Linked DNA regions of Homo sapiens: region 1 is linked to region 2. A link means that fine-mapping ties the variant in region 2 to the expression of a gene that starts in the linked region. Tissue or cell type: monocytes. Region 2 holds a variant in brackets; the other region holds the start of a gene. All regions are shown on one strand. Distances are from middle to middle.

The links. PIP is the estimated chance that this variant, and not a neighbour inherited with it, causes the effect.
Region 1: it holds the start of LINC00664, and the variant in region 2 is fine-mapped to the expression of LINC00664 in monocytes (BLUEPRINT, PIP 0.95).

What each region holds. Positions count from the first base shown.
Region 1 is chr19:21,482,188-21,484,873 of GRCh38, reverse strand. LINC00664 (long intergenic non-protein coding RNA 664) reads right to left here and starts at 1,159. Exons shown (of 11, transcript NR_037194.1): 1 at 868-1,159.
Region 2 is chr19:21,567,878-21,570,563 of GRCh38, reverse strand. LOC124904670 (a long non-coding RNA gene) reads left to right here and starts at 1,308. Exons shown (of 2, transcript XR_007067182.1): 1 at 1,308-2,686. LOC101929007 (a long non-coding RNA gene) reads left to right here. Exons shown (of 4, transcript XR_007067176.1): 4 at 1-662. The variant T/C (reference allele first, on the strand shown) is at 1,357.

The DNA.
Region 1 (2,686 bases), 86 kb after region 2:
AGACGGAGGATCCCCTGAGCCCAAGGAGGTCCAGGCTGCAGTGAGCTGTGATCACACACCTGCACTTCAGCCTGGGTGACTAAGAAGACCTCATTTAAAAAAACATACACACACACACACACACACACACACGTATGAAAGAAGAAATTTAAAACAGCAACTTCAGTGTGCAGGAAGGTGCTTAAGAGAGAAAACAAAACAAAACAAAACAATAGTAACTCAATGTACCGTGGAAACAAACTCAAAGTGGGGCTAGAAAAAAAGAAAAAAAAACCCAGAAAGATCCCGAGCCTCAGCTACTCTGGAGGCAGAAACAGGAGGATGGGGCCGGGCATGGTGGCTCACACCTGTAATCCCAGTGCTTTGGGAGGCCAAGGTGGACGAATCACCTGAGGTCGGGAGTTCCAGACCAGCCTGACCAACATGGAGACCCCATCTCTACTACAAATACAAAATTAGCTGGGTGTGGTGGCGCACGCCTGTAATCCCAGCTACTCAGGAGGCTGAGGCGGGAGAATCGCTTGAACTCGGGAGGTGGAGGTTGCAGTAAGCCGAGATTGCCCCATTGCACCCCAGCCTGGGCAACAAGAGCGAAAACTCAAAGAAAGAAAAACAGACAGAAAGAGAAAGAGAAGAGAAGAGAAGAGAAGAGAAGAGAAGAGAAGAGAAGAGAAGAGAAGAGAAGAGAAGAGAAGAGAAGAGAGAAAAGAAAAGAAAAAAGAAAAGGGAGGATGACCTGGGTGAGTCCGGGCAGGTGGAGGGCGCGTGAGCCGTAATCGCACCCTCTGCTGGACCTAAGCGGTACTGCCGCGGGCGAGAGCTATCTAGTCCGTCTTAAACATCTCAAGCTGGAGGCCAAACCCTAACCTTGGGGCTGACATCTGGTCGACCCAGCGGCTGGACAGAGAAGCCAGCCGGTGGCGAGGGCAGAGGCCCACCGGGTCCACACTACGCGCCAAGTGTGGCCGAGTGTGGCGCGCGGGGCCTGAGCCCGTCCGTCTGGAGTATAACTCCGCCAACCTTCCTTCCCAGCGCTCTCCCACACTGTCTGCTGGTCCACTAAGACGGGGAAGAGCTCAAGGGGGGGCGACCGGCCCCTACTCCCCGCCGACCCCTCCTCCCCGCTGCTGAGTGGGAGAGGCCCAGGACCTGGACCGCCACTTCCAGACCACACAGCCACCCCTGAAACGGGGGCTGCCGGGCCACACCCTCTGACGCCCGCGCCTCAGCCATCCCACCACGCTCCCACAGCGGCGTCCCAGCCAGGGCGACGAGCCACCCGCAGGGTGGGAAGAGGAGGAAACCAGAGGGGGTGGACACCAAGCAAGGGAGCCCCACGAACCTGCGGCACCCTCAGAGCAGCATGTGGCCCCTTCGGCGCTCGGAAAGCCCACGGGCGGACCCTTCCAGGCTCTCGGAAGATGGCACAGGACGGTCCCTGATTCTCCATGGGGACTTGGGAAAAGAAATCGGCCAGAGCCTCAAACGGCCAGGACACACATGGGCCCGCAACCGGGCCTGGGGGGTGTCCCCGGCCCCCTGCATCATGCCTGGTGGGTTCCGAGGGTCGGGCCTCCGCAGCTGCGGTGAGCTGGGGACCAGCCCGGGCAGCCCCACACTAAGCTCATGCCGGGAGCACGGTAACAGCCTCCCCTCCACAGCCCTACACGCCAGAGCTATGACTCACAAGGGACGCGCCAGAGCTCTGGCACCATCGGGACTGTTCTGCTGAAGTCTGCAGGACTCCCGAGCTCTGCTCAGCTCACAGCGGGGGCTGTCCCTCCCTCGGCAGCTGCCACTGGAGCTCCAGAGGACAAGAGAACTCTAGAAAGGTGGCCGCCCCTGTGGGCCACAAGCCGTGCCGTCAGCCCAAGCGGCCTCTGGAGGAGGCCTGTACTGCTAGCCGGCCGCTAGGAGGCGCCAAACAACCACCCACGCAATAATCAGCCAGGAAAGAATGAAAAAATACATATATATGCATATACTGATCAAAGAACAATCATACCCAGTCAGGGCGACGATTTTCTAGGCAACAAGGAAGAAGCCAACTTTGAGGTAGGGACAGTAGAGAAGACACAGTTGACCCAGTCTGTGCACAGGCTTCCTTTTCTGTGAGACCTTGGTTTAGGGGACATAACTATATTTCTTTGTAACACAATTACTTATTATAAACGTTATGTTTGTTTATTTACTTATTTGCTTTTTGATTGGAGTCTTTTTTTTTTTTTTTTGAGACGGAGTCTTGCTTTGTCACCCAGGCTAGAGTGCAGTGGGGCAATCTTGGCTCACTGCCATCTCCGCCTCCCGGGTTCAAGCGATTCTAGTACCTCAACCTCCTGAGGAACTGGTATTACAGGCACGCACCACCTCGCCCGGCTAATTTTTTATTGTTAGTAGACACGGGGTTTCGCCATGTTGGCCAGGCTGGTCTCAAACTCCTGACCTCAGGTGATCCAGCCGCCTCAGTCTCCCAAAGTGTTGGGATTACAGGCGTGAGCCACCACGCCCAGCCGATTTTTTTTTATTTCTTATGTGTATGGTCCTGTGATAGACCAGGGGACTTGTAACCTCAGAGTCCATGAGGCCAGAAGTTAACGTCCTAAATGTCTATTTAGAATGAACTTAAATGAACCAAACTCTCTGCCACGAAACTCTCAGAAAGACAAGAGATTAAAAAAAAAATTGC
Region 2 (2,686 bases):
TGCAGACACCCCTTCCCCTTCCTCTCTGCATTCTTTTGCATGCCCACCTTATCTAAAAAAATCAAATGTTTAGCCAACCAGGATTAGTTCAGATTGTACGACCCGACCCTGGCCAATGGGGAAAGGGTACAGGGGCAGGACTTGTGTCAGGAATAAAGGCTCTTGTGCCCCTTTGTTCAGGTGTGCTCTCATGGTGACTGGACAAGAACGCACCCCTCTGTGCAGAACTAAAATTGCTTTGCTAGGAATCCTTTGTTCGAGTGTTCAATTTCCTTATGATTTTGAGCGTTATTCCTAACAGGAAGAAAAGGGATATTCAGGCCTTTCACAGACCTGACAACAGAGCTGCACTTCAATGTGACAGGTATTGACCATGTGTGACTCCTGGGAGCCTGGAATGTGGCTGGTCTGAGCTGCAATTTGCAAGAAAGGTAAAATGCAGAGTTAGTTTCAAAGATTTAGTTCCATAAATATAAAAATATACAACATATAGATAAAAATATCTATATATAATATGGATAAAAATACATAGCATAATGCAATATATAGATACATAATTATGTTATATATAAATATATATCTCATTCATAATTATACATTGCTCACATATTAAAATAATATTTTGGATATATTGCTTTAATTAAATTGTTACAACAGACGGATGCAGTGTCTCACGCTTGTAATCTCAACACTTTGGGAGGCCGAGGTGGGCGTATCACGAGGTCAGGAGATCGAGCCATCCTGGCTAACACGGTGAAACGTGTCTCTACGAAAAATACAAAAAATTAGCCAGGCATGGTGGCAGGCGCCTGTAGTCCCAGCTACTTAGGGGACTGAAGCAGGAGAATGGCGTGAACTCGGGAGGCGGAGCTTTCAGTCAGCCGAGATCGCGTCACTGCACTCCAGCCTGGTCAACAGAGCGACTCCGTCTCAAAAAACAAAAACAAAGACAAAAAATCTCATGCTGCCTTCTCAAAGCCAGGAAGGTTATAAAACCTGAAATTTCAAAATCATTATTATTATATTCTTTTCATTTGTGAATAGCCATACAGTATAATATTTATAAATGCATATAACCTTATACACAAGATTACATGCAAACACCCTCTAGGGTGGGCCTGGCTCAGCTCAGGGACGAAGCCCTTTCTGAGCGGGCGGCAGCTTAGGCAGTCACTCTTTCTTCATTCAGCCTAGCGTTTGGTCACATCTTCTGTCAATCACGATGTGAGGAGGCGGGGATTTAAGCGTTATCCAATCAGCAACACTGGGCTGGAAACCCTCCAATCAGCCACGCAGCTGGAGCGGGCAAGACAGCTTCCGGAATATGGGGGCCTTTGTCTCCGGCTGCAGCTGGAG[T/C]TCTACGTCTAGTCTTCAGAGGCCCAGTCTCCGTGACTTTGTGACCTGCAGGTATTGGGAGATCCACAGCTAAGATGCCAGGACCCCCTGGAAGCCTAGAAATGGTGAGAGTGCCGGGTCCGACATCCTGAGAAAAGGGAAGGAGTTGATTGGAACTGGTGGCAAGTGGCTGTGGTGGGACTCGGGTCTCCCGTCAGTCAGCTCCACAGTCTGCGCCCCGAGTTCTCCTTGGCCAACTCAGCCTCAGTCCTCTTCAGCCATAGCATGGTGGCTGCGCTGACAGCAGGACCCTGGGCTGAAGGTGTGGGTTGCCCCTCCACACCTGTGGGTGTTTCTCGTTAGGTGGAAGGAGAGACTTGGAAAAGAGAAAGACACAGAGACAAAGTATAGAGAAAGAAATAAGGGGACCCAGGGAACCAGCGTTCAGCATATGGAGGATTCCACCAGCCTCTGAGTTCCCTTAGTAGTTATTGATCATTCATGGGTGTTTCTCCAAGAGGGGGATGTGTCAGGGTCACAAGACAATAGTGGGGAGAGGGTCAGCAGACAAACACATGAACAAAGGTCTTTGCATCATAGACAAGGTAAAGAATCAAGTGCTGTGCTTTTAGATGTGCATACACATAAACATCTCAATGCTTTACAAAGCAGTATTGCTGCCCACATGTCCCACCTCCAGCCCTAAGGTGGTTTTTTCCTATCTCAGTCGATGGAACGTACAATCAGGTTTTATACCGAGACATTCCATTGCCCAGGGACAGGGAGGAGACAGATGCCTTCCTCTTGTCTCAACTGCAAGAGGCATGCCTTCCTCTTATACTAATCCTCCTCAGCACAGACCCTTCATGGGTGTCGGGCTGGGGGGCGGTCAGGTCTTTCCCTTCCCACGAGGCCATATTTCAGACTATCACATGGGGAGAAACCTTGGACAATACCTGGCTTTCCTAGGCAGAGGTCCCTGCGGCCTTCCGCAGTTTTTGTGTCCCTGAGTACTTGAGATTAGGGAGTGGTGATGACTCTTAAGGAGCGTGCTGCCTTCAAGCATCTGTTTAACAAAGCACATCTTGCACAACCCTTAATCCATTTAACCCTGAGTTTGACACAGCACATGTTCCAGAGAGCACAGGGTTGGGGGTAAGATTATAGATTAACAGCATCTCAAGGCAGAAGAATTTGTCTTAGTACAAAACAAAATGGAGTCTCCTATGTCTGTCTACTTTCTACACAGACACAGTAACAATCTGATCTCTCTTGCTTTTCCCCACACTGGGCGTCCTGTCTGCACAGTGACCCAGTGATGGTCCCCTGGCCTGGAGGCCTCTCTGGGCAG